Linked DNA regions of Homo sapiens: region 1 is linked to region 2. Evidence: fine-mapped expression QTL. A gene starts in region 2. The other region holds a variant in brackets. All regions are shown on one strand. Distances are from middle to middle.

Evidence for each region.
Region 1: its variant is fine-mapped to the expression of CDON in subcutaneous fat (GTEx, PIP 0.96). The same link has a PIP of 0.9 or more in sun-exposed skin.

What each region holds. Positions count from the first base shown.
Region 1 is chr11:125,970,036-125,985,337 of GRCh38, forward strand. It overlaps CDON (cell adhesion associated, oncogene regulated), which reads right to left. Exons shown (of 20, transcript NM_001378964.1): 16 at 13,837-14,058; 17 at 11,014-11,294; 18 at 8,269-8,348. Among named protein-coding and RNA genes, the nearest start is that of VSIG10L2, 32 kb to the left of the region's middle. The variant A/C (reference allele first, on the strand shown) is at 5,719.
Region 2 is chr11:126,055,265-126,070,566 of GRCh38, forward strand. CDON (cell adhesion associated, oncogene regulated) reads right to left here and starts at 7,602. Exons shown (of 20, transcript NM_001378964.1): 1 at 7,315-7,602. It also overlaps the pseudogene NAP1L1P1. RefSeq lists an enhancer at 1,896-5,159 and silencers at 7,360-8,029, 8,100-8,189.

The DNA of each region.
Region 1 (15,302 bases), 85 kb before region 2:
TTTTTGCATTAAGTTTCCTCTTTTGATTATGCCTAGAGGGAAAGAACTATCCGTGAATTTCTTGGATGTGTGATACTTGTTCTCATGCATATATTCTTGAGACTTCGGAAATAGTTACATCTTGGTGGTAGTTTATGTTTTTTTTTTTTTTTTTTTTTGAGACAGAGTCTTGCTCTGTCGCCAGGCTGGAGTGCAGTGGCGCGATCTCGACTCACCGCAACCTCTGCCTCCCGGATTCAAGCAATTCTCCTGCCTCAGGCTCCAGAGTAGCTGAGATTACAGGCGCGCGCCACCACGCCTGGCTGATTTTTGTTTTTTTAGTAGAGATGGGGTTTCACCATGTTGGTCAGGCTGGTCTCGAACTTCTGACCTCGTGATCTGCCTGCTTCAGTCTCCCAAAGTGCTGGGATTACAGACGTGAGCCACCGCACCCGGCCAGTAGTTTATGTTAAAATTCCACTCACCTCTGCTGTTTCCACTAGTCACTGTGTCATTTTGCTGACCCAGCTCTTATTTTCGGGAGCTTATCAGTTACTACCTAAAGAACCCTGATGGCACCGCTCCAGGGCCATGGCCGTCTTCCCTTCTCGATATCTGCTCTGTTGGATGCTGCGATGACCGCAGCATTAGAGTGGGAGTTTCCTTTTGGGAATTAATCTATCAGCAGCTGTCACATAAAACATGACAGTAAATGTTGAGTGACAACAAATGACTGAGTGTATTCCTGAACATGGCAAGTTGACAGACACACACGAGCTTATAAAGAAAGACAAAAAGCTGGACTCCCTGACAACAGGCGCTAGGTCTCCATCTTAGAAGTACGAGACAGACTTGGGGAGATATATAACTTCCCCAAAAGGAAAGCACTGATCAATTTTTAAAATTCAACACAGCACTCTGAATTTCTTAGGGAAATAGGGAGATTACCATAGATGGAAGAGAAGCTGAATGCCTGTTTTCTGCTGGAAGAAAAAGCTCAGGTGAACTGGACAACTTGTTGTTTTAATACTTAGCAAACCAACTGGGTAGATCAAACCTTAGGCCTGAAAGAACTGCTATGATAATTAACGTTCTCCGGTGGCTCACGCCTGTAATCCCAGTACTTTGGGGGGCCAAGGCGGGCGGATCACGAGGTCAGGAGACCAAGACCATCCTGGCTAACACAGTGAAACCCCATCTCTACTAAAAACATAAAAAATTAGCTGGGTGTGGTGGCGGGCACTTGTAGTCCCAGCAACTCAGGAGGCTGAGGCAGGAGAATGGCGTGAACCTGGGAGGTGGAGCTTGCAGTGAGCCGAGATCGCACCACTGCACTCCAGCCTGGGCGACACAGCGAGACTCTGTCTCTAAATAAATAAATAAATAAATAAATAAATAATAATAATTAATGTTCTCATATTCATCTCTACATGTTGTTGTCATCGGAGGACATCTGACATCCACGGAGGGTTTCAAGTTGGTGAAAGAGCATTCCCAAATCCAACACACAGACTTTTAAGGTTGTCATTATACAAAACTCTGAAGTCATTTGTAGTATCTCTGTTCTCTAAAGCACCGTTCCCAGTAGTTTTACTACTTCTCTTGACTATCAGCCATGTAATTTGTACTTTTTTTCCCAGATGAATTATATAATTTTTCCAAGCTGATTTTCGCTGGGAGACTTCCTGTCCATCTCCAGTCTCTCTACGACCCTTCGAGTTAATTTCTCATTCCTTCCTGATGGGGTCTCTCGGTCCGTTCATCTGTGAATTTCATCAGTGTCCTCTCTACTCTCTCTTACAAATTATCAAGGCTGATGCTAAAAAAGACCAGATTTAATGCCAATCCCTTTCCATTAAACTAGCCAAGCAACTGATAAGCCACATTTAATTACATATCCAGAACTGCATTACTGCCTTTTGAATTCAGGAGAAGAGAAGAGAAGGGTAGAAAGCTTTCGATGTTTTTTGATTAAAATCCATTTAACTCTTGAAATGCCCAAATGGCACAAGGATTTCTTGATTAGGTCTCTGGTGTAAGGAACTGGCTCTCTGCAAAGCTGCCTTAAATATGCTTCTTTCTAGGCATTCATAGTGAGCTTTACATATTACTCTTAAAAACTGCAAAGGGGTCAGGCGCGGTAGCTCGCGCCTGTAATCTCAGAACATTGGGAGGCCGAGGCGGGCAGATCACATGAGGCCAGGAGTGCGAGACCAGCCTAGCCAACATGGCAAAACTCCGTCTCTACTAAAAATACAAAAAAATTAGCCAGCCATGGTGCCACACGCCTGTAATTCCAGCTACTAAGGAGGCTGAGGCATGAGAATCGCTTGAACCCAGGAAGCGGCGTTGCAGTGAGCCAAGACTACACCACTGCACTCCAGCCTGGGTACTGGAGTGAGACTCTGTCTCAAAAAAAACAAAAGAAAATCAAAAGAAACTAAAAAGGATTCAAGGTCATGGAACCCAGTGAGGCAAGCGGTCATTTACAGCATGTCACAAGAGCCCCAGAATCAACTACAACTTCCCCACAGATCTATACAGTGCACCCTCCCCTCACCTGCTCTCAACTTTTCACATCATACTCTCATTTACATAATAGAGGCAACGTTTTCCCTCCAGATGGTTATTACTAAAATAGATGGGTGATAAAAGGGGTCAAGGGTTGGCAATGTTTCTTAAAAGCTCACTCCAAGAAATATGCTTAAGTTTACAACTGAGAAGGCAGAGAAAAAAGAACCTGGAGTGGCAGGGCACAGAGCAGGTAAGAGTCCGTACGGAAAAGGCCCCATGCAAGACTTCTCCAGTTCTCAGTATCTGTGGAATAAAGAAGGCGAATTGCAGAGGCACCACCAGATCTCAGAGGACAACTCTCCAGAAGTATACTGTGGGGCAGCTCCTCTTCATCTCCTGCAGTGTTCTCTGCCTCAGTGACTGCGCCCAGACACCTAGACATCATCTTCAACTGCTTCCTCCACTGGCCTCTTCAACCAATTACTTGGTCTTTTTTTTTTTTTTTTTTTTTTTTAAATCCCTCAGACTCATTCAGACTCATCTCCTTCTAAATCCTAATTCTCTCAAAATTCTTCTCTTTCTCTCCCTACAACTATGCTAGTCTACTGTTTCTCATCTGGACTACTGCAACTGCCATCTAACTGGTCTCCAGGTATCCTCTCCTGCCCCATCCAATTTAGTCTCCAAACTGCATCCAGAGTGTTCTTTAAAAACCCAAATTCAGCTGGGCATGGTGGCTCATGCCTGTAATCCCAGCACTTTGGGAGGCCAAGACGGGTGGATCATGAGGTTAGGAGTTCAAGATCAGCCTGACTGACATGGTGAAACCCCGTCTCTACTAAAAATGCAAAAAATTAGCCGGGCGTGGTGGCGGGCACCTGTAATCCCAGCTACTTGGGAGGCTGAGGCAGAGAATTGCTTGAACCCGGGAGGTGGAGGTTGCAGTGAGCCAAGATCGTGCCACTGCACTCCAGCCTGGGCAACAGAGTGAGACTCCATCTCAGAAAACAAAAACAAAAACAAAAACGAATTCCTGCTTAAAACCATCCACAGATGTGCCATGGCTCTGTGTGATCTGATTTCACTCGCCTTTTAATTCTGACTCCTCCAGTTACTAGGTTTCTGCTATGTTGGCCTTCTTTAAGTTCTTTGAGGATTCAGGCATTCTGTTTTAGAGATTGTGTATAAATGGTCCCCTTTGCCTGGAAAGCTCTAAACTTATTTCCTTCCCTTAGACCTAATTTTATAAATCTTCAGAGCTCAGCAAAATGCCACTTGCTTACAGAGGGCTTTCCTCTCTCCCACATTCTTTACTTTTCCTTTAAAGCATCCAGATTTAATTACATATTCATTTTTATTATTTATGTCATTTTTTTTTTCTTTTGAGACAGAGTTTCGCTCTTGTTGCCCAGCCTGGAGTGCAGTGGCGTGATCTTGGCTCATTGCAACCTCTGCCTCCCGGGTTCAAGTGATTCTTCTGCTTCATCCTCCGGTGTAGCTGGGATTACAGACACTTGCCACCATGCCCAGCTAATTTTTGTATTTTTAGTAGAGATGGGGTTTCACCACATTGGCCAGGTTGGTCTCAAACTCCTGACCTCAGGTGATCCGCCCGCCATAGCCTCCCAAAGTGCTGGGATTACAGGCGTGAGCCACTGCACCCCGCCGATTTATGTCATTTTCTTAAAAGATATGTCTCCCCTATTAAACTCTAAGCTCCACGCAGGCAGGAGCAATGCCTGTTATGCTCACTGCCATATCCCCAGTACCTAGTTTGGTGCTTGGCTCACTAGAGACCTGCAGCAAACATTTGTAGGTAGGTAGGTAGGTAGGTAGGTAGGAAGGAAGGAAGGAAGGAAGGAAGGGAGGGAGGGAGGGAGGGAGGGAGGGAGGGAGGGAGGGAATTCTTTTTTTCTTTTTTACTCTCCTTATTTTATCATTCTCCTTTTCCCATCTCTGTTATTCTCTGAAGATGTATTAAGGCAGTAAGAAAAAATAACAAAAGATATGATGTCTTATAAAAAGAATGTCTAATCACTTTAAATACATAATAAAAGCAAATAAATGCATCAAATAATTAAATATATAAAAATAATCAATCTGCCAAGGATATTGTCTCCTTTGGTGTCTCATCTGTTTTTAAGTTCTATTACTTGGATAGAACTTAAAATGGTCCTAAATCTGTATCACAGTTCCATTCTACCCCCTGAAGCCAAGACCAGCATTTTCATCTTTCTCCTTAAGATATCAACTCATACTTCAACTCTAAAACCAAATTTATCACCTTTTTATGATGTATCATTTTATTAAGTTTCTTATTACTATGACTACCACCCAGATCATCCATGTTTGAAACTTCTTACACATCTGGAATCTTCTGTTTTTCTAGATCCCTGTCAGTCAATGGCCAAGTCCTGAAGACTCCATGTCTGCAGTCTCACTCATCCCTTCCTCTTCATCCCCATTCCCCATGTCTCACTGATCCCCTCCCTCCCTTCCCTCCTGTGCACTGCCATCTTTCATCCAGCCTGAGCATATCTCTGAACAGATCATTCCTGTTCTCAATAAGCTTTGCAACAATTATGATGCTGCTACCCCAGTGTTTCTCAACATTTAACGCATATCCCCTTTTGATTAATATAAAAATTGCATACCCTTGTATACATAGACATTACAGACATAGAGATTTTTTTCTATTCTTTAAATATAAAATTATAAAACTCAACGTGCTTCTTCAAACTCTACTCACTATATCCCTACCTCTGTCTGAGAATCACTATTGTTAGACTATGGACTCTCTGAAGGCAGGGCCTAGGCCAGTACCCAGTACATGACAGGCACTCAATAAAAGGCCTTGTTTATTAAATAAACTTGCTTATTTAATAAATAATATTTAATAGGACTATTATTAAGTAATAGGACTTGTTTATTAAATAAACTACTAAACCTTCACATTCAGGGTTATCCACTATATAAACTCAGTCCAGTTGTCCAATTTCAATATCCTACTATTCTCTAGTTGCACTTCACAGCCGATCAAATTATTCCAGCGGTTCTCAAAGCATGGTCCCAGGACCATGGGCATCAGTACCATCTGCGAACTCATTAGAAATGCAAATTCTCAGGCCCCACCCTAGACCTGCTGAATGGGAAACTCTGGTCTAAGAATAGGAGTGGGAGTAGAGCCTAGTAATGTGCGTTTTTATTAAGTGTTTCAAGTGATGC[A/C]CGCTAAAGTTTGAGAACCACTGAAGTCGCCTATTCATTCTTATGTAAACATTATCCTTTCTACGTCCATGACTGTTCTTACATTCCTTCTACGGGGAAACACCTCAGAACCTAGTCCAGAGCCTGGGTAGTGCTCAGTAAATGTTTGTTTTGTTTTGTTTGACTGAACAGCCAAAAATCATATGAGGCCCACTTGATAGCCCTCATATAACTTAACTGAAATCACGCTTCTTTTTATGTTTACACTATTTCAGCTGATATTCAGAAATGCAAACTCATTCATAGTAACAATGTCGATATTCTAAAAGCATAAATTGACTATAATTTTCTATATTTTGAGAGTAAACCACGTATCATCTACCTTTCGGCATTCACAGCTTTTTACAAATTTTGTCATTTGTAAGATCTTAAGAGGAGATACCTGTTCTCAATTCCAAAGTGAAAAGACTTAAAATCTTTAAATTTAATAATTCAAATTTTCTAGAGCTGAAGGTAGGTACTTATTGATACTTATCTGTCCAATTATTGAGTGTCAAAATCATACAGTTGCTCCTGGGAGCCAGGTGAGACACTGGCTAACCTTGAAGGCAATGCAGGCAAGTAAAGACTTGCACTAAACAGGCAGATTCTCATGAGGAAGAAAATTGAAACCAGGAAGAAAAAGAATCTGGTGTTCCAAGCTGAAGAGAATTCACCTAAATTCCCAGATAACAGTAAAACCCACACACATGAAATGTAGTAAGTCATTAACTTGAAAATTAATAGAAATACAATTGTTCATTGTCTTAAAGGAAAAAAAAACTGTATAATAAAAACTTGAAAATACTAAAATACTACATACACACACATGCACACACACACACAAACACACACACACACACACACTACACATACAAATAGCCACAAAGCCAAGGTCATTTAAATGGCAGAGGTCATATAAGTCCTTCTAAGGAAATGGGATGCATTCTTGATATTAAGATGATACTTCATCAAAAAGACATGATTGGCAGGAAATTGCCAGAGACTACCGTCAGATTATGTTGGGAGCAATCTTACATTACCTAGGACAATTTTCCCCTTTTTAGTTAAGGAAATAGCTTCAGAAACATTACGTTACTTTCGCAAGATCACAGGTTTAAGCTATGTCACAGCCCAGGTCTACTTATTCTTAGACCAGAGATCCTGTCGTTATACCATTCTATTGTCCAGGAGAACCAAGATCTGCTGATGACCAAGAACCACAAAAGAAAACACGTTAAAATTTTAAGCAAGACCACTTGTAACTAAATCCGTCTGATTACTCGCCAGGTACATGAACCACCTTTACCAGGTCTTTAGCACGTTGCCTAACAAACTACGGTAAAGTCCATGAAAAGCTCAAGACAAAAATGTGGTTTCAATGTTATGAACATTTGCAAAACCAGGGTCATATAGAATTTAAATACGTAACAAGCAAACCTTAGTACATAAAAGAAGCAGATGGCTCTTTTATAGACACCCTGAAATGGGTTAAGTAAATGATAACAAACAATCTCCAAGAAGCTCTGTTGCTTTTGTTCTGCAACTCTCAAAACACAGGCTGGAACAACGTATTTTTAATTTGATGGTTGGCCTGATCCTTCTTCAAGTTCTGGTTTCAATAACTCCCAGAGACAACTCTTAACCTGTTAATCCATTTTAAATATATAGGTCAAACATCATTTCAATAATAAAATATCTAAACTCCCACCCATACTCCAGTTATTTTATGTACTAACTATGACATAATCTTTTTGGTTGTAGAGTTTTAGGACTGAGAAGGAAGGACTTTTGACACCATGTAATTCAATAACATCATTATGTAAAAGAAAGAACTAAGATTTCTGAAACAACTTTAATACAACAAAAAGCTTGGTAATCCTTGGGATTACCATAGAGAGAGGTCGTAGGAAAGTGTGCCGAGTATCCTATGTGTTAAATGCACATTGCTCTCCATATTTCTATCTTGTTTGAAATATTGTGAGTACATACCACTTTTAAAATTAAAACACAAAATTCAAAGCAAGGGTTTGCTGCTTAATTTTCTTAAGATTTTAAGAATTAAAAAAAAACACTGGATAATCTGGTAGGAAAATTTCAGTAACATTACTGTGAAAAAAATTACTATATACAGAGGGTTCCCCCCTCCCCCCAACACTCAGAAACACTGTCATTCATCCTCATAACATCCCATAACATAGAGTAGAAAATAAAAGGTGAGAAAAGATAAAGTCTTTATAACAGAGAATGACTCTAATTTAAAATTTTCAAAAACATTAAGCCTTATAATAATATTTCAGTGACAAATAGAGCCTTTAAGATGGTTTCTATATAGCTGAAGAAACCGAGGCACAAAAAGACAAAAATTGGAAAGCAGAGGCAAAAAATTAGTAACAGCTTTAAATTTAAGATTGCAAATCCTGAACTTTATATCCTAGGTAAAATTCCAAGAACTTTCTTTGCTGAAGGGAAAAATAAAAGGATGCATATGCCTTATTCACAACAGCTTGTGCAGACACATTATTAACATACCTATTGTTGTTTCGACAATTTCGGCAGTTAACACACTCCAGAGGGTCAATCTGAGGCACGGCCGTGTACATTCCACCACCCTGGACAGGAAGGAGTGTCAGAGAAAAAGAAAAGAAGAAGGAATGCTGAAGGTACTCACAGACCAGTAGCCAAATAATCACAAATACACATGAGCCATGTCAACCATAAATGGGCACACAGTATATTCTAACCAACTCCCAGAGCAACGTCATTGTGAATATCACTGACCCATATTCACAAAGGAGTGAATGAGAGTTCTGCATTAGATTTAACTGTATTCCAAAAACTTCACTGCCATGTTTTCCTACGTATTTCTGTACTAGACAAAGGTAAATAAATGAAGGGAAAAGTTTAGTCACTTCCCTTCAAATCTAGTGGGCTCAAAATACATTATATGTTATAGCCTCCATTCATTTTCCCTTTCTTGGCAGTCAGGGAAGAATTTCATGTGATACCAGTTGGAGAAACAGGGTGTAAAACCTGTGTAGATGATGTCACATGATAAACTCATCTTCATTTTCCTGTAATTATTTCAATTAGGTCTGTTCACTTGACAACGCTAAGTTTTAAAGCATGCTATATTTTTCCAGATGGAGTAGATCTTCAGCCAGCAATGACTTGGAGGGGGTGTGTTAATATTTGGATGTTGCTTTTGGCGGAAACTGCCCAGCAATTAAGAAAAATGCCCAGATTAACACATACCTCATTGTAAAATGTTCACTTGACAGACAGCAAGGTTCTTCAAAAATGAAGTTAAAAATTAAACTAGCCTGATAGTCAGAGGCAGAATTCTGCTTTCAGAAGAAAAACAGCAGAACTGAATTTGATAAAAGGTGGGAGAGGCTGTCACACTGCACCCAAACCCAAAGCAGGCCTTCAAGGTTAGGAAAAGTTCAGGCAATTGTTTTTCCTAGAATACTTTCCATTTCCATTCATTTCATAACAGTAGCCAGAATCTAAGCAAACCAAAAGTCCTGAAAATTTCCTTCAGTGTTTCTGATCCAACCAGCAACAGGAATTATTAAGAACATATCGAGAGAAAGAACTCTCCTATACTATATTCCATCTGAGGGAAAACCTGAAAGGCTCAGAAAATGAAGTTCACAACCTGCAGGGTAACGTTGTGACTTACGGATTCTCTGAATCCCTCAACACGTTGAAGTTAGTGCAATGATTTTTAGGGTCACTAACACTGTTAAAATTTCTCTATTTCCCCCACCCAGAAAAGTAAGAAAACGAATAATTTAGAATCACAGATAACTTCTGACATTGTACACCAAATGGGGCACCTATTATTTAAATAGAAATTCATTGTTCAAAAAACCCAAGGTTCCGTGTTCAAACACTAAAGCGAACATGGGCCTTATGTTTTCTTCTTATGGAAACAGTGTGTGCTATTCAAATGTTAATGCTCTCTCCTTCAGTTTTCTTGGACAATGGTAGTAGTTTGGACTAGGAATGGTGACCAAAAAAGCTTAGAAAGTCTGAATACATGCTGTATCTTTCCACACAAAATAGTGAAATCATGATTCTCTTTTAGTAATGAGATGCATTAAAGCAAATTAATATTTCTTCCACAACATACAAAAGCTAGGTCACATAAAAGCTATTCAATTTCTAGCTTTAAAATATGAGTATATATTAGTTTTGTTCTCCAAATAGATTTTAATAAATCTTTAATAAACTGAAGATGGGGGGAAAAAAAACTCTAAGCTTCTTCAAATTGTAGCACATTGTGGGTCATGGTAAATTTATTTGTAATCAGAACAATGACAAAAACTGAATGCTTAATTCCATCAATTAAACAAATTATCTATTTGATCAAAAGTAATATAGATGTGCATCCAAACAATGTCATAAATCAAACTTTCTAGTGCAGAGAACCCCACGTAAGTCTAAAATATGCTAGTCATTCTACTACCATTTCAAAAATTAAACGCTATCAACTAGTTATCTCTGAAATAAGGTTGTCTTAAGGGTTTATCACTCTTTGTGTGGCTAAAGAATACTAACATTGTAAAATGTAAAAAGCTTACCAGCCACAACAACAAAACATATTGGGCAAAACAAACAAAAGAAGCCCATGAAAGGTCAGAAGTCACAACCCGGTGGCCTGCAGAGATGTTTGGCATGGCCTACGTATGTTTTCAAAAATTTGAATTAGGTGCCAGCATGTAAAAATCTGTCAATTTCACTTGGATTTACAGAGGTTTTGAAAAATCAGAAAATTTGGCAACACTGCGCCCTCAGTCCATGACGACTGTAAGTGTCAAACCGCGGCTGCTTCCTGAAGACACTGTCTGTGCTCTCCAGGTGGCCATCGCCTCCAGTGCTACCATCTCACTCCCACAATTTCCTGATCTGCCTGACTCTTTTCGGCATTTGCATTTTCAAGACCCTGCTCTCGATAAATCAAATTTAAAGTATTTGGTATTTCCATTTCATCTAAAGAACAACTTCCAGTCTGTTCACTGCTGGTATTCCACTTTCAGTGTTAAATAATTTTAAAATGAAACTAAACTGATGAACATAACTATTACCTGGCAATAGAAAACAACTTACAAAGACTACTCTGGATCAAAGGGCTGCCAGTGATCCATGCTGTTTCCATTCGAGGAAACTTGTGAGGTTTCTATACTGAACAAAGCCAAGCATGCTGTCCCTGTTCTAGTACTTGGCACCCTGAGGGACAGAGGGGCTTTTATTTATAGTTAGGTCTCTTACATTCACTAGATGATGAGGATGTTCAAAATCCACGTGTGTCCTGGTTAGAGAGTTGCTGTGCCCGGAGTAAAGCCCTCCATTTAGGCTCCCATTCACAATTCCATTGACTGCATTGGGGACCTTATGGTGAAGGTGGGAATAGCCACTGCTGAGACCGCCATTGGTTAGGAAGCCTCCGTGAACATTTCCATTTATCTGACTTGCTCCTGAGAGAGTGGTGTAGTCCACCATCTGCCCGTTCATATCTGATCCTTGGTAGAGATATCCTGGTGGGTCATATTCTGTTAAAAGAGAACAAAAAAGACACACACGCACACACACACACGCACGCACACATGCACATACGCACACACGCATGCACACATGCACATACGCACACACGCACACACGCACACAGTAAGACACTAAAAAGGACAATCTTCTTGCTGAGAAGGTCTTACAGATAAAACCCCTACGAAACTACAAATAGACTAAAATAAAAACATTTTTAAAATGTTCACTTAAAGCCTACTTGTAAGACATGCTTTAATAAAGTTACTGCTATTATTTTCCATAGAGTGTAGAGATAGCTGTGAACTCTGAGTTAATTATGATTCTGTTAACGGGAAGAAAAATCACCTAGGGAGAAATTACTCAAAAGAGAATGAATATATTGGGCAAGCTGAAACTATCAGAGTACTGGCAATACTAGGAAAAAGTGCTTAAACTCCTATATATTATACTTCTAAGTGCTGAAAAAAACTGCATAAAATGACAACAAAAGACTAGCTTTAGGTGGGGTATTTCAAGTAGCAATAAACAACTCTGTTAAGTAAAAGGATGGAGTTGTATATACAGTCACTGATCATTCATATAGCTCCTTAGTCATTACAGCCAATTTGGAAGGTGTGGAGTACCAAAGGCAAAAAGTGATTCTATTTTCTTTTTTTTTTTTTTTTTTTTTTTTTTTTTTGAGATGGAGTTTCGCTCTTGTTGCCCAGGCTGGAGTGCAATGGCGTGATCTTGGCTCACTGCAACCTCTGCCTCCCGGGTTCAAGCAATTCTCCTGCTTCAACCTCCCAAGTAGCTTGTGCGTGCCACCACATCCGGCTAATTCTTTGTATTTTTAGTAGAGACAGGGTTTCACCGTGCTAGCCAGGTTGGTTTCGATCTCCTGACCTCGTGATCCGCCCACCTCGGCTTCCCAAAGTGCTATGATTACAGGCGTGAGCCACTCCGCCCAGCCTTCTATTTTCTTCTATTAAAAGCATACAAATGACTGCCTCAAAACTGATTTCCAGAGGCACATCTACCAGATATATTTAGAAAAAGTAAAGTATCTCTTAGAAACTAGAGTGTCCAAACTGTACAGGATTTGTTGTTGGAGTCTGGATAAATTCTTCGAAGGTAGGAGAGCTTGCCAAGGCTGGATTAGGTGTCCCTCCTTTCCTTAGCTGCCCACATTACTGTGTGCTCTCGCCCAGGTGTGTAGTCTCAGTACACCTGCTTGTGGTCTCACTAAGCTACACACTTTGAGAGGGCAGAGGTGGTGTTTATTTTATTTACCATTACATCTCCACTGTCCAGAACAGTGCCTGGTATACAGAAGACGATGATTATCTTTTGAATAAATGACTGAATGAACACCACCATGAGAATTTTCCATTTTTAAACATTATCAGGTCACAAAGTAGGATGACTTTAATCTGATTAATATGGCTGGGACGACCAGATTAATGTTCTCTTTTAATGATTCAACACGCACTCACACAATTAAAGGCAATGGCATTAAAACCATTTAGAAAATCAAATGATCACCATCCCTTTCAGATTAATACTTCTCTTTTCATGATTCAACACGCACTCACACAATTAAAGGCGATGGCATTAAAACCACTTAGAAAATCAAATGATCACCATCCATTTCAGCCTGATGCAGCCACCATCTCTCCCCCTATCTCTTGGAAGGCATCATTCAATACAAACAGAGTACTTTCTTCCCCCAGAACTGGTAACTAAAAGGGGAGCATGCGTGAGAACTGGCTAACAGCCACTGGAAGTGCCTGCTGGGGTCCTCCCTCACTTTTCTTTCATTTCCTTATTCTGGAGCCAAAGGGGAAACCAAAAAACTTCCTCCCACCAAAGACTAAACTCTCTGCTTGATTTGATTACCCTATTTTATAATAGCTGAGATAACAGGAAAAGTAGGACAGTGAGGTGAAGAGAACTGAAGGAAGAGAAAAGAGAAAGGGGGTTCTAGGTTACTTCACTGTTATTTCAAAGCAGGGCCATCATCGATGTTCAAGCACACGTATTCCTAGACACACTCCAGGGAGAGGACGCCATGCTGGAGCAGTCTTGAGTCCATCAGGTACAGAAACAGGGCTGCGTTATCCTCATCGGTGAAGTGTCATTCAGTGACAGTGACTTAGACAAGTTTTCACTACCTGCTTTCCATCATGGCTTTTCTATTCCCTGTTGACAAGCTCTGTACCAGTGTAAAGGTGTTCCTACAGCAATTCCAGAGCTCAGGCTTCAAATATGCGTCCTCTTTGGTGGTCCAACAAAGCCGGAGTTTCCCAGCAATAAGTCAGCTATTTACTTAGAGACCTGCTTAGTTTTGGCTTTGGTGTTTATGTCTGCTGGGCAATTTAATTTGATGCTCCACTTACTCTGGCTGACAGCTAGAACAGTTTTAAAGTCATCTCCTCTGAATGAAGAGTATCTAATGTGTTTCATACCATGACACTAATATACAACAGTGTTAGAAATCAATATTTATTCTGACAATATTTGTCTACCCACCTTTAGAAAAAGAGAAGGAGATATTTATGAGTGACTTACTTTGTATGGTATTCTGCTGGCGATTCTTCCACAGGCACATTGCAATGAAAACCATCAGAATGAGGACCATGACGCCCAGCACACAGCCAACGATCAGATATAACATGTCACTGCTTCTGGCAGGGCTGGTTGCAGGCCCCACATTTCCTCCACTTCCCAAAGAATTTGGAGGGGTACTCAAGTCTTTGACAGGATATTCAGAAGCTCCAGGAACACGTTTCACTAGTTGAAATATAAAGGAAAACATGATGTCAGAGTGAATACAGACTCCATGAAATGGTTTACTCTCTGAAGGAGGTCTGGTTAGGAATGCAAGCCAGTCTGTTTACTCTTGTTACTGAGATGACCTGACCACCAATGAGTCACAAAGAGGGCTCCAAAGTTTAAAAACTTGATGTGCCAAAGTTTTAGTCCACAAACTTTAGAGAAATCCTAAAGGCAAAGGAACATATGCACTTGGTCTAATCCAAACTGCTATATGATTATCTGCTTAACTGTACTTGGAGAAAACTCCCAGAGTTGAAATAAAAGTGTTTCCACTTAGGCCGGGCGTGGTGGCTCACGCCTGTAATCCCAGCACTTTGGGAGGCCGAGGTGAGCAGACTGTCTGAGCTCAGGAGTTTGCGAACGGCCTGAGCAACACAGGGAAACCCCGTGTCTACTAAAAATACAAAAATTAGCTGGGCGTGGCGGTGGGTGCCTGTAATCCCAGCTACTGGGGAGGCTGAGGCAGGAGAATTGCTTGAAGCCGGGAGAAGGAGGTTGCAGTGAGCCCAGATCACGCCACTGCACTTCAACCTGGAAGACAGAGTGAGATTCTGTCTCAAAAAAAAAAAAAAAAAAGTATTTCTACTTATGGATGGAACAAAAACTCCTTTCTGTCAGATACACTTTGAGCTAAACAAGACTCAGGATTACATATTTTATGCTTCTACCATGTATATAAAATTCACTACCAATATTAGAAGTTATAGCTTTGGACTACTAGAAAAATGACATTCCAAAACCTCACACATAGTATTAAGCATTCCAAAAACAAAGACTTTGGAGCCCGTGTAGGTGCAGTACTTTTACCCGGTTCATCGGTGTTCTGGGTAATAGCGATAACGAAAGCTAGTAACAGGTGGGACTCAAACCTCATTCTCTCATTCCCAAATCATATGTTCTTAAGTCTCTAAATGTCACAGAAAAGCAGTAGAGCAAAGTGGTTGGTGCCAGTCTCTGGAAGCACACAGCCTATGTTTACACCTCACCTCCACTTATCATTAGCTGTATGATTTTTACCTCCAAAACCTCAGTTTTTATTTATTTTTTATTTTTTGAGACAAAGTCTCACCCTGTCGCCCAGGCTGGAGTGCAATGGTGTGATCTCAGCTCATTGCAGCCCCGTCTCCCAGGTTCCAGCGATTCTCCTGCCTCAGCCTCCCAGGTAGCTGGGATTACACACATGTGCCCCCACGCACGGA
Region 2 (15,302 bases):
GGATGGAGGGGTAAGGTAATGGTAACAGACAAGAGATAAAGAAGGCCCACTTCTAAGCTACAGGGAGGATGGAATTGGTATGGATGGGCATACATAAATATAAAACAGTAAAAATTCAATATACTTTTCTGTTTTATAAAATGGAGAAAATATTATTTTGGTGGTTCAGGATCCCACAGTTCCTTCCATCATTTTAAATATCAGTGATTAACATAAAGTACTATATTTACAGATACAAGATGTGTACATGGTTAAATATCTATGGATCCCAGAAAAGATCTTGAATATGGTTTTGATACTTGGACACGTCTCTGATACCGGCCTTTCTCCTCCTATATGAGTTATTTATCTCTCTTGTAACTCAAGTTTAGAAAAGTTGCAGTGGAGGAGGGACAAGAGGGACATTTATTAATGTTTACATATAATTTGTTGTAGGAATGAATAAATAACTGGGCCAACAAATGGCTTCAGATGTGTACCTATATAAAAAGGTAGTACATGCTATACTTTTAAGTATTATCATTTCTGATACCAATACACTTAGAATATTGAAAAAGTCCCTATTTAAGTAAGGAAGAAAGAATACCCGACATTTACTTGTTAGTGATAAACTAAGGATTACATTTAAAGTGAAAAGAGCCAGCAAGTCGAGGCAATCTCCAACTTTAAACTGGAGCTGGTTTAAAAAATGTATTTATCCAATGGCTGTTGGTAACTTTTAACATATTTCCTACCTCCAAAATCATGTACGTGGTGGGTATGTAGCCTAGGCATACCATAAAAGCCTATTTCATGGAACCTCAGTCCTACAAATGCCTTAGAGGTTATTTGGTTCAATGTTGCACCCAAGAAAGAGATTCTTCCCACAGCAGCCTTTGCAAATGCCATTACAACACTTCCAGGAATCAGGAGTCCATGCCCCTTCCAAACAGCACTGCTTCACATGAGGCAGCTCTATTTGTTGGATAGTTCTTCTTTCTTCTGAAACATAATCTGCATCTTTGAGGACGCCTATAGATCAAAAGATGAATCATGTATCACTATTTCAACGCTCCCAACCCCCAATGAAATCCTGACCACGGATGGTCTGATTTAGGAAGAAAAGGGGACAATTTGCCCTTCTCCAGTCCAGAGGAACCCATCCTGCATATGGCTGTATGTGAAGAATGACCTTGTGTCAAGAGCTATGAATAGTCAGATTTAATAAAATTATAAATGTTGAAAAATACAATGTCTCCTGAGAGAAAAATGGCTAGTGTTCAAGCAGAACACCCACAAAATCCTTAATCAACATTTCCAATAACAGAAATACAAGCTATTAACCACAGCCAAAGTCCCTTCCAAAATTTAAAACAAACAAACAAAAACCCTTCTGATTTCATCTACTGAATCATCTTGTCTGTCTGTGAAATAAATTTTATTTAGCATATTAGAGAATTTCAACAATACAAACAAATTCTGAATGTATAGGCATAGCCTGACCACAATTGTTAATAGGTTAGTGGCCAAAACTCTTCTTCCTGATATAAGTGCTTGGTCCTGTTCCTCAAAATCTTCCTGCAGTATAACATCCTAGCTCCACTTTCTTCCTTTTATGGTGGACTTTTCTTTTTTCTTCAGAAAAGCATTGTACTGTTTCATTTTAAACTCAAAGAATATTATACTAATGCTGGACTGGTGGTTACTTCTGTACAACGCTAAGTGTTGATTACGGCATTTAGTCCTAAGCATGAAGGATATAAGCTACCTTAGATGGTCCTTTTCCCCTATTTTGAGGCTCCCTCCTAAAAACACACACATAAAAATGAATACAGTTTTCAAAGTATTTGGTTTATGGAATTGTAACTGAAGGTAATTATACCTTCAAGTAGTGAATAAACCCAGTTCTGTGAATAAAAATGAGGTCATGGTTGTTTTCCTAAGATAGCCATTGGGATCTGATTTTCTAGTAATGTAGGAAGAAGTGTTATTTTCTTTTTTCCCCCAAAGACTGTGTATCCAATGTGCCAATAAAATGAATTATTATGAATTTCAAACCGCACAAAAGACTCTACAACAATTTACAAAGCATGAATTAGTACTGTATACATAAATAAATGTTATTCAATAACATGAATAAATCTCACAGGCTTATGTCTATTACAATGCTCATTATTGAGCAGTGCAAGAACTCCAACATAAGACTACATACTGTAGGAGTCCATGTTCATACAGTTCACGAACAGGCAAAACTCATCTATTCCAACTCTTCAGAATAGCTGCTGCCTGCTAGCAAGAGGGAGGGCTGCCTGGGATGGGCACCAGGGAGCTTTCTAAGGCCAAGGAAATGTTCTATATCTCCATCTGGGTACTGGTTACCACAGACATGTGCATATGTAACAATTCATCTAGCTGTTCACTTAGTATACATTAGCTGTACACTTGTGATATTACTATGTTACACCTCAACTGGAAAAAAATTACACACAATGTCCAAGTGCCTTCTAAGTTTCAGCTGCAAATTTAAGAAAGCTGTATTGTTTCACGTGCCCGCACTATTACTAGCTTCTGAGAAATACATGTACACTTACATATACAGGAGGAGTTAATAAAAATAACAGCAGCTAACATTTACAGAGGTTTTACTATATGCCAAGTGCTTGACTTTCATTATCTCATTTAATCCCACAACAATGGTAAGACATAATTTCTGTTATTATACCCATTTTACAGACAAAGACCCCCAAGGCTTAAGTCAAGATCATTGCCCAGGCTCACATAAATAACAAGAAGTGAGCTGGTCTACAACAAGAATAGCTGAAAAGCAAGCTCTATGTCAGCGTCCAAATTCTCTGTTTGTATTAGGGTAACATAAAAATAAAATTGGCCTCACAGTTCCAAGTAACAAAACATAAACAAAATATGTAAGCTAAGTTCAGTAATATAACCCATATATTTTTTCTCGAGTAAGATGAAAGGCACATCAGTGGCTCTTAAGCACTGGAGTCCCTACTCACATTCCAACAGATATACAGCAGAACAAAATGTTCTTTGGGCTAGTTTTTTTATTCTCTCTGGCCATCAAAATATACCGCACAGCAAAGCGACTAAACAGCTGTGAATGCGGACAGGCACAAACTGCAGTGTTTACTCCAATTCATTCAAGGGTCCTTTCAATCTGGCCATAGTAGTAGGAGAAATGCCCAGGATTAAGGTGGAAAAAAGCTAAACATATCTTCAAAAAGGCTTCTTTATTTTCTGAACACACTGTATTGTGAGGAGAACTTGGTAGAGGGCTACATGGGAGTAGGACGGAAAAGACTGTGCACTATTTACAACACGACTTTACTTGGAAACAAAATATATCAAATGAACCATCAAATATGCTACTGCATTCTGCATTAGCTGAAAACCAGGAGCATTGGAATTCACATTCTTGGTAGATGAAAACCAATTAACTACACCATCCACCATTCAGAACTGGTCTTCCTTGAAAAGTACACAAGAAACAAACTGGGCTAATATTCTGAAAAAAAGTTTGTGCCCAAACATTATTTGAGGCAGGGGAAAAGGGACTTGGGAAGGAAGACACACTAATGTTTCTCAAAAATTTTGCTCCAAAGATTTTACAGAATGTTTTTGGCAGATAGATTTTCATTTACTTGGCGCTGCTAGCAAGTCTGCAAAGTAATGCCTCAGAAACACTAGAAATGATACAATTCTTAAAAAGACAACAGAAAAGACATAATCTAAATTAGAATTCTATAATAATAATAATGTAACAGAAACAATCAAATTCTATCAATAGTAAACTAAAATATGCCTATTAAAACAAGCATTTCATCACTGCAAAACCATTTGTTTCACATGAAGTCTGATTTTGCTCTCAGTTTGAAAGTTATTAAAACGATACATCAGCCTTTACAGGCAAGACCAAACAGTAAGATAATTTTACATATTTATCAAAAGATCATTCAAAGAAAACTTACCAAGTCTGCAACGTGTATATGCTTGTGCTTCGGAGGGAAAGCAGAGAAGCCACTTTCTGTACTTACACTGGAGTTCACTTCAGTGCTGAAAACACATCACTGTAGTCCTGCTTGTAATAAAGTCCGGACTAGCAATCTGCCTTTGGGTTGGGCTTTTCTCTTACAAGATAAGCTGTTAAGTCATGCCTTGATTTTAGATCTGCCAACATATGGAGTCTTCTAATGTAGCCTTCCCTCCACCCCCTCAACCCCCCCTGCCCGCATCCCCCCAATCCCCGCTCTGCTCCACTCCCTCTGCACACACACACATACACACATACAAAAAAGGCACTGCAGGGCAGAAATTCCTCAGGTGCTCGCTAATGGAATTCCCAGGGTCTTGGAGCCGCTTCGGGGATCAAGAGATCTCATAGCCCCCGCTGGGGTAAGGAGCAGCGAGTCTGTTCCATTTAATCAAATACAGAATGAATTTTCAGCTCTATTCACTAGCTTGTCTCCAGGGCTCTCAAAAGGCACCAGGCAGCTAGAATCACACACATGTGGCTCTTTTAGGCAAGTATAATTAGCTTGATTTTAAAAAGCCACATTAATAATATCACCTCAGGACCATTATTCAGGAGACAGATGACAATGATACTGTATGTTTTAAGCCTGACAATGGGGGAAAGAGCACAAGCAATGAGGGAAAACTTGAAGGATTAAAAAAAAAAAAACCAAGAAACCAGTTTTTCATTTAATTGTAATCCAATATTTTTCAAGTGACATTAAGAATATTCCATACACCATCCCTTCTTTTTAACAAAAAAGAATCAAGTAAAGCCCTCCCCTGTGCTGTTGAAAGTGAGTTAGTGCCAAATACACAACAAAAACTTATCACATGGAATGATTACATACAATATAAAAATTTAAGTAAAAATAAAACATTCTCAAATTCAAGTTCACGAAATTTCTTGAAAAAATTCCCCATTAAAAAATACTGTAAAAAAGCAAGTCCTTCAACTCAAAATATTTGGCAACCATACTCCAAATTCTGTTTCTAATCTAATTAGTTTGTATTAAGTTCATTTACTTAAAGGGGGGCTACCATGTACGCAGCTCATCTACAGCTCCACTGTATTGTCTTACCCATACTTCTACATCATGCCATAGCTGATCACAAGGCGCTGGCTCATATCATTACACGTTAAAGCAACACATTTTTCAACTCATTATTTATTTTCTAACGCTTCCCTGATTTTTACTACGATAATATTTAATTCCTGAAATCATTTCCCTAGTATTTAACTTCGAAACAATCACCAATTTTTAGTCTAAACGTTCGTGGAAAAAAAAAAATTCTACAGAAGGAAAATTTTACTTCAACTTACATTTCGACAAAACCATACATGAAATTGTCTACAAAGTCATGAAGGCAGATGGGCGAAGTGGGAAAATAAGAAGCAAGCCCAAGAAATAGTCAACAAATTTTTACCTGCTCTCTTTAGAACAAAGCCCTAGGACATTAGTTCCTATTCCTACCTACTGCCTTCAGCTGTATATACCCTGACGATCTGGAGGAGAAAGTCCTATCTTAAAGTGAACTTAATTCTTTTCCTGCAAAGTCAAACCACCTGCAAAGAAAGCAAGGCGTAAGCTAGATTTAGAAGCCAAGCTACACAAGCTAGATCAGTATCCAAGTCCTAAGGGTTCTTTGTACTTGAAGGCTTGAGAGTCAGAGCTGTTTAAGTACTTTGCACAGAAGAGGAGGCTGATGAGAACCATGGCAATCAATCAAAGCATCCCAAGTGAGTTATTACACAAACAACAGCACAGTACCTCTAGTAACTGATTCTCCTGGCTGACTAAACTATTCAAACAAAGACAGATTTCCCAAACACTGGGAAGTTTTTGCATGAAAGTTAAACAGTATACATTTGTGTGTTTCTTAATAGAAATATAAATGTTTCTGTTCTACACACTGCCAAACACACACCCAGGGCACGTCTTTACAAAATGAAACAGGTTTTCTCCATCCTTCTCATATAACTTCAAGTATGAGGCAGTTCATTCCAACATGTGCATAACAGAGACTGCAGTATTTGGTGCTTCTCGGGTTCCAAAGAATGCTTTCTAGTTAAGCACTAATTTAAAATTTCCAGAAAATTTTTTGAAGGTTTTCTTTCATCTTATCTTAAAAGTTGAACTATCCCCAAATTTTCAGCTAAAAATAGACTGAGGGTGGGGGAGAACTACAAAATGTCATAGAATGTTTAGAATTATGCTGACAATAAACTCATTTCATTTTCTAACACCCTCCCCACCTTCCTCTCCTTGGAGACACTGTCCACTAGGTATGCCAAGTGTCAGTTGGGAATTTGAGGGTTATGTTATCAGCGCCGAAAGGAATCAGAATTCACTGACTTGGCGTCTTTCATCTTTACTGGCATAGGCCTGAAAATAAATCTCATGTGAGCTTTTAGTCCAACCTCCTGTTTTTCAAGGTGTCTGGTTTGGGACACAAAGGCTGACTTTCTGTTGATGAGGTTCTCTAAATTCTGGATTCCCACTGGAAAGCAGTCTGCCCTTAAAGCACCTGCCACCCTCTGTCGTCCTGATGAGGAAGGGCAGGCATTCTGGAAACAGCTCCTTTTGGAGAGCCTTCCACCTGATTTGGTGGGGTTAGGGAGAACAATGAAGGGAAGGGCAAGAGAGTCTATCTATCCCCCTCAGTGATTTATTGCTGAAATTCCTAGATGTGGAGAGAAAGCAACAAAGGTCTGGAAGCTGCCGACTGAAATAAATAGCGAGCTGTAATGTATTTAGCAAATGATAATGCAATCCACAGAAAGCTTTACAGAGGAGAAGGAAAAATACACTCCCTGGGGCTGGGAAGTCAGTGAGTCTTGTGAAGGCAGAGAAAGATACATTGTGCAGGAAATTTCTCTTGCTTCTCCCTACACATAAATCACTGTCTCTCGCGGGCGCTCTGCAGGGATGGAGATTGAGAGAGGCCAGGGACCCGGCTCCCTTGGGAAAACGCGCGGGCGCCCTAGCTCCCCGCTCTGCGGCATCTCACCTGCCCCCGAGGACCATCGTCAAGAAGAGGTTTCGTCGTGTCACTGACACCTCACCCCGCCTCCTCCCGCGAGGTGCCTCCGAGCCCCCGAGGACGCGGAACGCCGGGGCTCCCCGCCGGGCAAGCATCAGCATCCAGACCCCGCACGCAGCCCTGCACCCCCACGCCCTCCAGGGAACGCCGGCCCGCCCGTCCCCGGGACCTCCCGTCCCCTAAGCCAAGGCCCCCCAAGCCCAGTGCCCGCGCGCCACCCCTCCCTCCGACCCTGCGGCGGGACCCCCACCCCCGCACCTCTCCGCGGGGCTGGCTAAGCCTCCAGACCTCCTGCGCTGCAGCCGGCTCGGAAAGCCACCCCCAGGTCATCCCCCCGCGCGCGCGCGGCGGCGGCTACGGTGGCGGCGGCTGCGATCCGAACGGGCCCCTCCATGCACCGCGCAGGGCAGAGGAGGGAGCGGCGCCTCGCACGCCGGGGCTGGGGCGCTGGGCAGGGCGGGCGGGCGTGGGGTCCCGGGTCTCCTCGCACCTAGCCGCGCGAGCCGGGCTCCCGGGCTCAGGGGAGGGGAGCTGAGGGGCGGAGTCACCGGGGCGCGCCCCCGCGGCTGCGCTCCTCCCCGCCGGGGAGCGCGGGCACGTAACTCGGAGGGTGCTGGGCCGGCCCGGAGCACGCGAGCAGCGGGAGGAGGGACCGGGGAATGACTGACGGAGGCGGGCCGTAGAGGCCGCTGTGCCCCGCCGGCCCGCACCCGGCCGGAGTGTGCGCGCGCAGCCTGCCAGATCAGCGGCGGGGGCACGGGCCGTACCAAGTGACGGAGGGGGGCACGCTCTGGGCAGGACCCTCTCCTCGTCATTGACCTGCCTACTCTGCAAGAGAGATACCCCAGGGGAGCATAGAAGAGGCTTTTCTTGGGTGTAGGACAGGTAAGGGTGAGTTGCCTTACCAAGTCACGGAGATTCCCATCATGCCTGCACTCACGCTCCCCTCACCTTTCATTCCCTTGGAGAGACGGCTCTTCTGGCAGGTCTCCAAATGGTCGACTCTGTCCCCCGAGGCCCCGCCCTAGCCTCGTTCGGGCCCCGCCCTAGCCTCGTTCGGGCCCCGCCCTAGCCTCGTTCAGGCCCCGCCCCTCGCCCCGCCCCGCCCCTCGCCTCTACCTAAGTTCTCTGAGCCGCCAACGGGTGCATCCCTTCTCCCGGTTCTTGCCTGGTCTCTCTTAGGGTTCCAGCGGCCCACCGCTTATACCTCCTTCGCCTTTCCACCACTTTCCATGTTTAATTCCTTAGGCAGCTTCATCTGATTCCCCCACCACCACCCACCCGCCCTGCCTGCACATAAACGCAAGCAGGTAGCAAAACTCAGGGGCTAGGAGAGGCGTGGTGTGAGCCTTTGGCCCCAGAGTCTTTCCAACTCGTCCGTTGGACCTGCCCCAAGTTATCTGAACTCAATGAACTTCAGTTGTTCAAACAGAAAAAGGAAAAATAAATTTCTATTCAAAATGTTGCTGTGAAGCGTAAATACGATACTTTGTGAAAAGCACCTGCCACTCAGTGGGCATTCAAGGACTGTAACTTCTTTATAAATTGTTATTATTAGCAGTTAGCTCTTTTTTTTCCCCATCATCATTACTTACTATTAGCTTAACTACAAAAGGATCCCTAATAATAGTTAAGTTTATAAATACTCAGTACTGAACTTCAGGAGAAATATGCCAGTCCTCCCTTACCTTCTTACGTGAATTTTAAAAAGAAATGCTTTGAAAGTGTGGTATTGTTCAAGCAGGTTAGCTTTCTGCATTAGCTAGATTCAGGGTTTTTGTAAAGCCCCTGGAAAGAAAGTCAGTACAGGACGGAAAAAAAAAACACAATTTTTTTTCTTAAGACGGAGTCTCACTCTGTCGCCCAGGCTGGGGTGCTCTTGTTGCCCAGGCTGGAGTGCAATGGTGCGATCTTGGCTCACTGCAACCTCCGCCTCCCGAGTGCAAGCGATTCTCCTGCCTCAGCCTCCCAAGTAGCTGGGATTACAGCACGTGCCACCACACCCGGCTAATTTTTGTATTTTCAGTAGAAACGGGGTTTTGCCATGTTGGCCAGGTTGGTCTTGAACTCCTGACCTCAGATGATTCTCCCGCCTTGGCCTCCCAAAGTGCTGGGATTACAGGCGTGAGCCACCACACCCAGCCAGAAAAAAACTCTTAACTCTAGTTTGTCCTCCACTGTTCTATTGTTCACTTTTGGAGACCAAGAATCTATATGTTATTAACAAGCTATGGTAAACGATTTTTCATTCGGCAAGTAAGTCTTTCTATAGAGGATTTAACTGAAATGAGAGTTTTGTGTGGATGTTAATAGAAGTCTTGCAAATTTATTGTGGCTACAGAGAATTCCAGGTTCTTCTCCTGGGACATAATGCACTTTGTGCACCTCCAGATCTCACAGTGCCATTTGAATTCACTATGCCTACTGTTACTCATAGTCAGACTAAGAAAAAAATCACAATGTTTGTTGATATTAATTACTTCCTCTCCCCCTTTTTTTGTAAAGCAGAGAAATCATTTCAGGTGTAAAACAGTTTTTCATTAATGAATCATTCATCCATTTGTTCAACATTAAGAAACAATGTGCAGTCCCAAGCTTCAAAGAGCTCACAGTCTAACTGTGATACAGACACACACGTGGGTAAGTACAAGGAGACATCTTCAGTGCAATGAACAGGGAGCTGTGTGAACACAAGGTCAGTATAGTATTGAGTATAGTATTAAGAGGTGATAGTATTAAGAGGTGATAGTATTAAGAGGTGATAGTATTAAGAGGTGATAGTATTAAGAGGTGATAGTATTAAGAGGTGATAGTATTAAGAGGTGATAGTATTAAGAGGTGATAGTATTAAGAGGTGATAGTATTAAGAGGTGATAGTATTAAGAGGTGATAGTATTAAGAGGTGATAGTATTAAGAGGTGATAGTATTAAGAGGTGGAGACTTTAGAAGCTGACTAAGTCATGAGGACCACCCTCATGAGCAAGATTCATGACCTTATAAAAGGGCTTCAAGGAGCTAGCTAGCCCCTTCTGTCCCTTCTGCCGTGGGAGGACACAGAGAGGTCATCATCTGTAAGGAGTAGGCACTTACCAGACCCTGAATCTGCAGGCACCTTGATCTTGGATTTCCCAACCTCCATAACTATGAGAAATAAATTTCTGTTGCTTAAAGAGTACCCAATCTAAGGCATTTTGTTATAGCAGCAGAAACAGACTAAGACACTATGGGGCCTCCAACCACAGATGTCCACTATGTAGAGAACTCCAAGTGGAAATACGGATTTAAACGTCATCAGCATAAAGTAGTGTTTATACCATTAAAGTGGAAGCGATCTCTCAGGAATAATATGGAACCAGAAAGTTGTAGCCAAGGATGGATCTCTAAAACTCCAATAACTAAAGCCCCCAATTATCTTGATGAATTTGGAGCAAAGGCTGTTTACTGAACTCAAGGTATGGGACTTGAAAAGGATGCTTGAAGAAGGTGGTGAAGGTTTGGAATAGTCATTAGGAAAAATGAGAGTTGAAAAATGAAAGTAGAAAATCACTCAGAGAATTGATAAGTGATGCTGAGGGCCTGGCTGAGGTTGGAGACCATTAATGTATGGTGATGGAGCTTGCATGATTATGTGGTTTTCTCCATCAAAATTTAATCAGTCAGGTAGAAGGGGAAAAGCATAACACCAACCCAATTTTGAAGTTTTTCTGGAAGTTGTACAAGAAGGAAAATAACACACGGTATTGGTAAGAAAATTTTTAAAACAGCAATCATAGAATCCAGGCAGTGGAAAAGGTGTAAGAGGTTTGAGAAGAATAATAGACTGGAAAAATTACAAATTAAAGAAAAGGAGATATGTATGACATTAAAGAGCTGTTGTTACAGGATTGAGTAAGAAAGAACCAAGAAGTCTTTGGTAATAACCAGAGTTTACCATTTCAGAAGTAGAACAGTTCCAAGTAATGATTAGATCTAGTATGTTTACCGGTGCTGGTGGACGATGTGGATGATTTATGCCGTCAGGGGACATATTGAAGGAACTGAGAGGCTGATAAATGAAATACCATGAGCCAAGTACTCAAGTCCTCAGGGATGAGGTGGGAAGGTTGTTAGATACTAAGTGACATTTAATACATTCCAGGCCTGAAGTGGGTGCTTTTATAATACTCAATACATGTTAAAATTGGTTCTCCAAGGCCGGGCGCGGTGGCTCACACCTGTAATCCCAGCACTTTGAGAGGCCGAGGCGGGCAGATCATGAGGTCAGGAGATCAAGACCATCCTGGCTGACATGGTGAAACCCCGTCTGTACTAAAAATACAAACAATCAGCCAGGCGTGATGGTGGGTGCCTACAGTCCCAGCTACTCGGGAGGCTGAGGCAGGAGAATGGCATGAACCCAGGAGGCGGAGCTTGCAGTGAGCCGAGATCCCATCACTGCACTCCAGCCTGGGCGACAGAGCAAGACGCCATCTCAAAAACAAAAACAAAAATGGTTCTCCAAGAATAACATAATAGAGTAACTAGAGTCCATAAACTTGTATCACATTCTGACTGTACCTTATTTGATCTTGGTCAAATAACTTAAACTCTTGGAGTCTTGATTTCATCATTTGTAAAGTTGTAAATGACTTCATCATTTGTAAAGAGTAATAATACCTCATATAGAGTTGTTAATAGGACCTACTTCAGTGGTTTGCTAGGAGGATTAATTGAGATGATACACACAAAGCACTTAATACAGTGATTGGCAAGTAGCAAACACTGGATAAAAGTGTTTTTAACATAAATAAAAGCTATTTATAATAATAATAGTTAATGCTTATATAGTTCCTTCTGTGCACCAAGTATTATTTTAAGCATTAGTCCCAAATTACAAATGAGAAAACTGAGACATGAAGTGCCTTGACCATAGTCACACGGCTAGTCAGTGTCAGAGCTCATATTAAAACTCAGGTAATCTGTGTCTAGAGGCTGGACTCTTAATTATTACACATTAATGTCTCCCTACAATAATGGGAAGTATTTTTATTAATATCACTTCAAATAAATTGATCAGTTAAACTGATCTGTTCTTTTTTAGCACCATTTGCTCGCAGTGCCGCCTCCTGCTCCTCCTGCCGCCACTGCCGCCCTGAGTCACTGCCTGCGCAGCTCAGGCCTCCTGGCTTCCCATACTAGCTGCCGATATTTGGAGTTCTTATAACATGGCAGACACTGACAATCTGAACTTGATCGAGATTTGGATGATGTTGAAGAAGTACATGAAGAAGAAACTGGTGAAGAAACAAAAATCAAAGCACATCAGCTAACTGTTCAGATAATGCAAAGTCCTCAGATTCTTGCAGTCCTTCAAGAAAGACTTGATGTTCTGGTAGAAACACCAACAGGATACACTGAAAGCCTGCCTAGGGTAGTTAAAAGACGAGTGAATGCTCTCAAAAACCTGCAAGTTAAATTAAATGTGCACAGATAGAAACCAAATTCTATGAGGAAGTTCACGATCTTGAAAGGAATATGCTGTTCTCTATCAGCCTCTATTTGATAAGCGATTTGAGATTATTAATGAAATTTATGAACCCACAGAAGAACAATGTGAATGGTAACCAGATAAAGAAGATGAGATTTCAGAGGAGTTGAAAGAAAAGGCCAAGATCGAAGATGAGAAAAAGGATGAAGAAAAAGAAGACCCCAAAGAAATTCCTGAATTTTGGTTAACTGTTTCTAAGAATGTTGACTTGTTCAGTGATATGGTTCAACAACATGATGAACCTATTCTGAAACACTTGAAAGATACTAAAGTGAAGCTCTCAGATGCTGACCAGCCTATGAATTTTGTCTTAGAATTTCACTTTGAACCCAATGAATATTTTACAAATGAAATGCTGTCAAAGACATACAGGATGAGGTCAGAACCAGATGATTCTGATCCCTTTTCTTTTGATGGACCAGAAATTATGGGTTGCACAGGGTGCCAGATAGATTGGAAAAAAGGAAAGAATGTCACTTTGAAAACCATTAAGAAGAAGCAGAAACACAAGGGAAGTGGGACAGTTCATACTGTGACTAACACAGTTTCCAATGACTCTTTAATTTGTTTGCCCCTCCTGAAGTTCCTGAGAGTGGAGATCTGGATGATGATGCTGAAATCCTTGCACAGACTTCAAAATAGGTCACTTTTTACGTGAGCGTATAATCCCAAGAGCAGTGTCATACTTTACTGGAGAAGCTATTGAAGTTGATGATGATGTTTATGATGAAGAAGGTGAAGAAGCGGATGAGGTAATGTTTACCAAATGAGCAAATAATTCTCTGTGTTTAACACATTGAGAAGCAAATTGAATGACTTATGTATTCCTTTGCTATAATCATTCTGCAATTTGGGTTAAAAACATTTTGGAGGCCGGGCGCGGTGGCTCACGCCTGTAATCCCAGCACTTTGGGAGGCCGAGGCGGGTGGATCATGAGGTCAGGAGATCGAGACCATCCTGGCTAACAAGGTGAAACCCCGTCTCTACTAAAAATACAAAAAATTAGCCGGGCGCGGTGGCGGGCGCCTGTAGTCCCAGCTACTCGGGAGGCTGAGGCAGGAGAATGGCGTGAACCCGGGAAGCGGAGCTTGCAGTGAGCCGAGATTGCGCCACTGCAGTCCGCGGTGCGGCCTGGGCGACAGAGCGAGACTCCGTCTCAAAAAAAAAAAAAAAAAACATTTTGGAAAATATGATTTTAGAATTCTACAGCCAAACAGTGTATGTGTAAAGTTTCAATAAATAAACTGAAAAAAAGAAAAAACTTTGTTGAGCACCTTTTAAGTATAAAGCACAAAATTAAAGACATACAAGGAAATACCTGTATTAAAAACATCTTGGCTGGGTGTGGTAGCTCACAACTGTAATCCCGGCACTTTGAGAGGCCAAGGCAGATGGATTGCTTGAGCCCAGGAGTTCAAAACCAGCCAGTACAACATGGTGAAACTCTGTCTCTACAAAAATTATAAAAGATTAGCCGGTTGTAATGGCATGCACCTGTAGTACCAGCTAGTCAGGAAGCTGAGGTAGGAGGATCGCTTGAGCCCAGGACACGGAGGTTACAGTGAGCCAAGATCGCGCCTCTATACTCCAGTCTGGATGACAGAGTGAGACCCTATCTCAAAAAAGAAAAAGAAAGACATCTTATGTGGCCTCATCAGACTCTCTTAGCCTCACCTGTCTCCAACACCCTGCAGTGACTCACTCTGTGTCCCTTGCACCATTTCTAGGCACTGCAGAGCTTGAAATCTGGCTTCCCCAGGATCTGCTGAGAGGGCTAAGCAACACAACTCAAACATATAGTGTGAGGCCAGGCGTCTTGGCTCACGCCTGTAATCCCAATGCTGTGGAAGGCCAAGGTAGGTGGATTGCTTGAGCCCAGGAGTTCAAGACCAGCCTGGGCAATATTGAGAAACCCCATCTCTATTTAAAAAAAAAAAAGAAAGAAAGAAAGTGCAGTGTGTTATCTCCCCTATGTGAGGAGGGCATGGGAGCAGGGCAACAGATAAACTCCTCCCATCCTCTATCCATGGACTGCTCCAAGCATGGCTTGTCCACACTACTTGTCTGGAACCATCCCTCGTGGCCAAGCAGAAGCACCTACTGAGGGCTCAGCTGGGTCTTGTGTGATATATCAAACGCAAGGGCCTCATAACAACAGATCGCCTGCGTTTGTTTCCCAGCTGTTTCTATCCGATTTCCCTTTTCCCTCATTCTCACCTGTGATTGACCAGACTCTGTTTATTAGAAAATCTTTGTTATAAACCTAAAGAGTTTATACTAAAGCTTTAGAAAGTTTAGGCCTATGTATATATAAAACAAGTAACAGTGCAAATCACTAGTTGATAAACACCAGATGAGAGGAATACAGCCAGGCACAAGTTTGAGGTCCAGCCTGAATGTTATTAACCACTTAATTTTTTATTTTCTGTGCCTCGGTTTTCTCATATATAAACTATAGATAGTGATACGTGCGTTGCACTTTCATACGTTGCTGATGGGAATGAAAAATGGTATGACCCCAGGGAAGAAAATTTGACCATATTTATCAAAATATAGCATGCTTTTACCCTTTGATCCTGCAGTCCCAGTCTGGAAATTTGTCCTACGGATACTCTTGCATTCATATGAAAAATCTATTCACTGCATTGTTGTTTATAGCAGATTAGAAACAATCCAAGCGTCCACCATCAAGAACTACATCCACACAATGGAATACT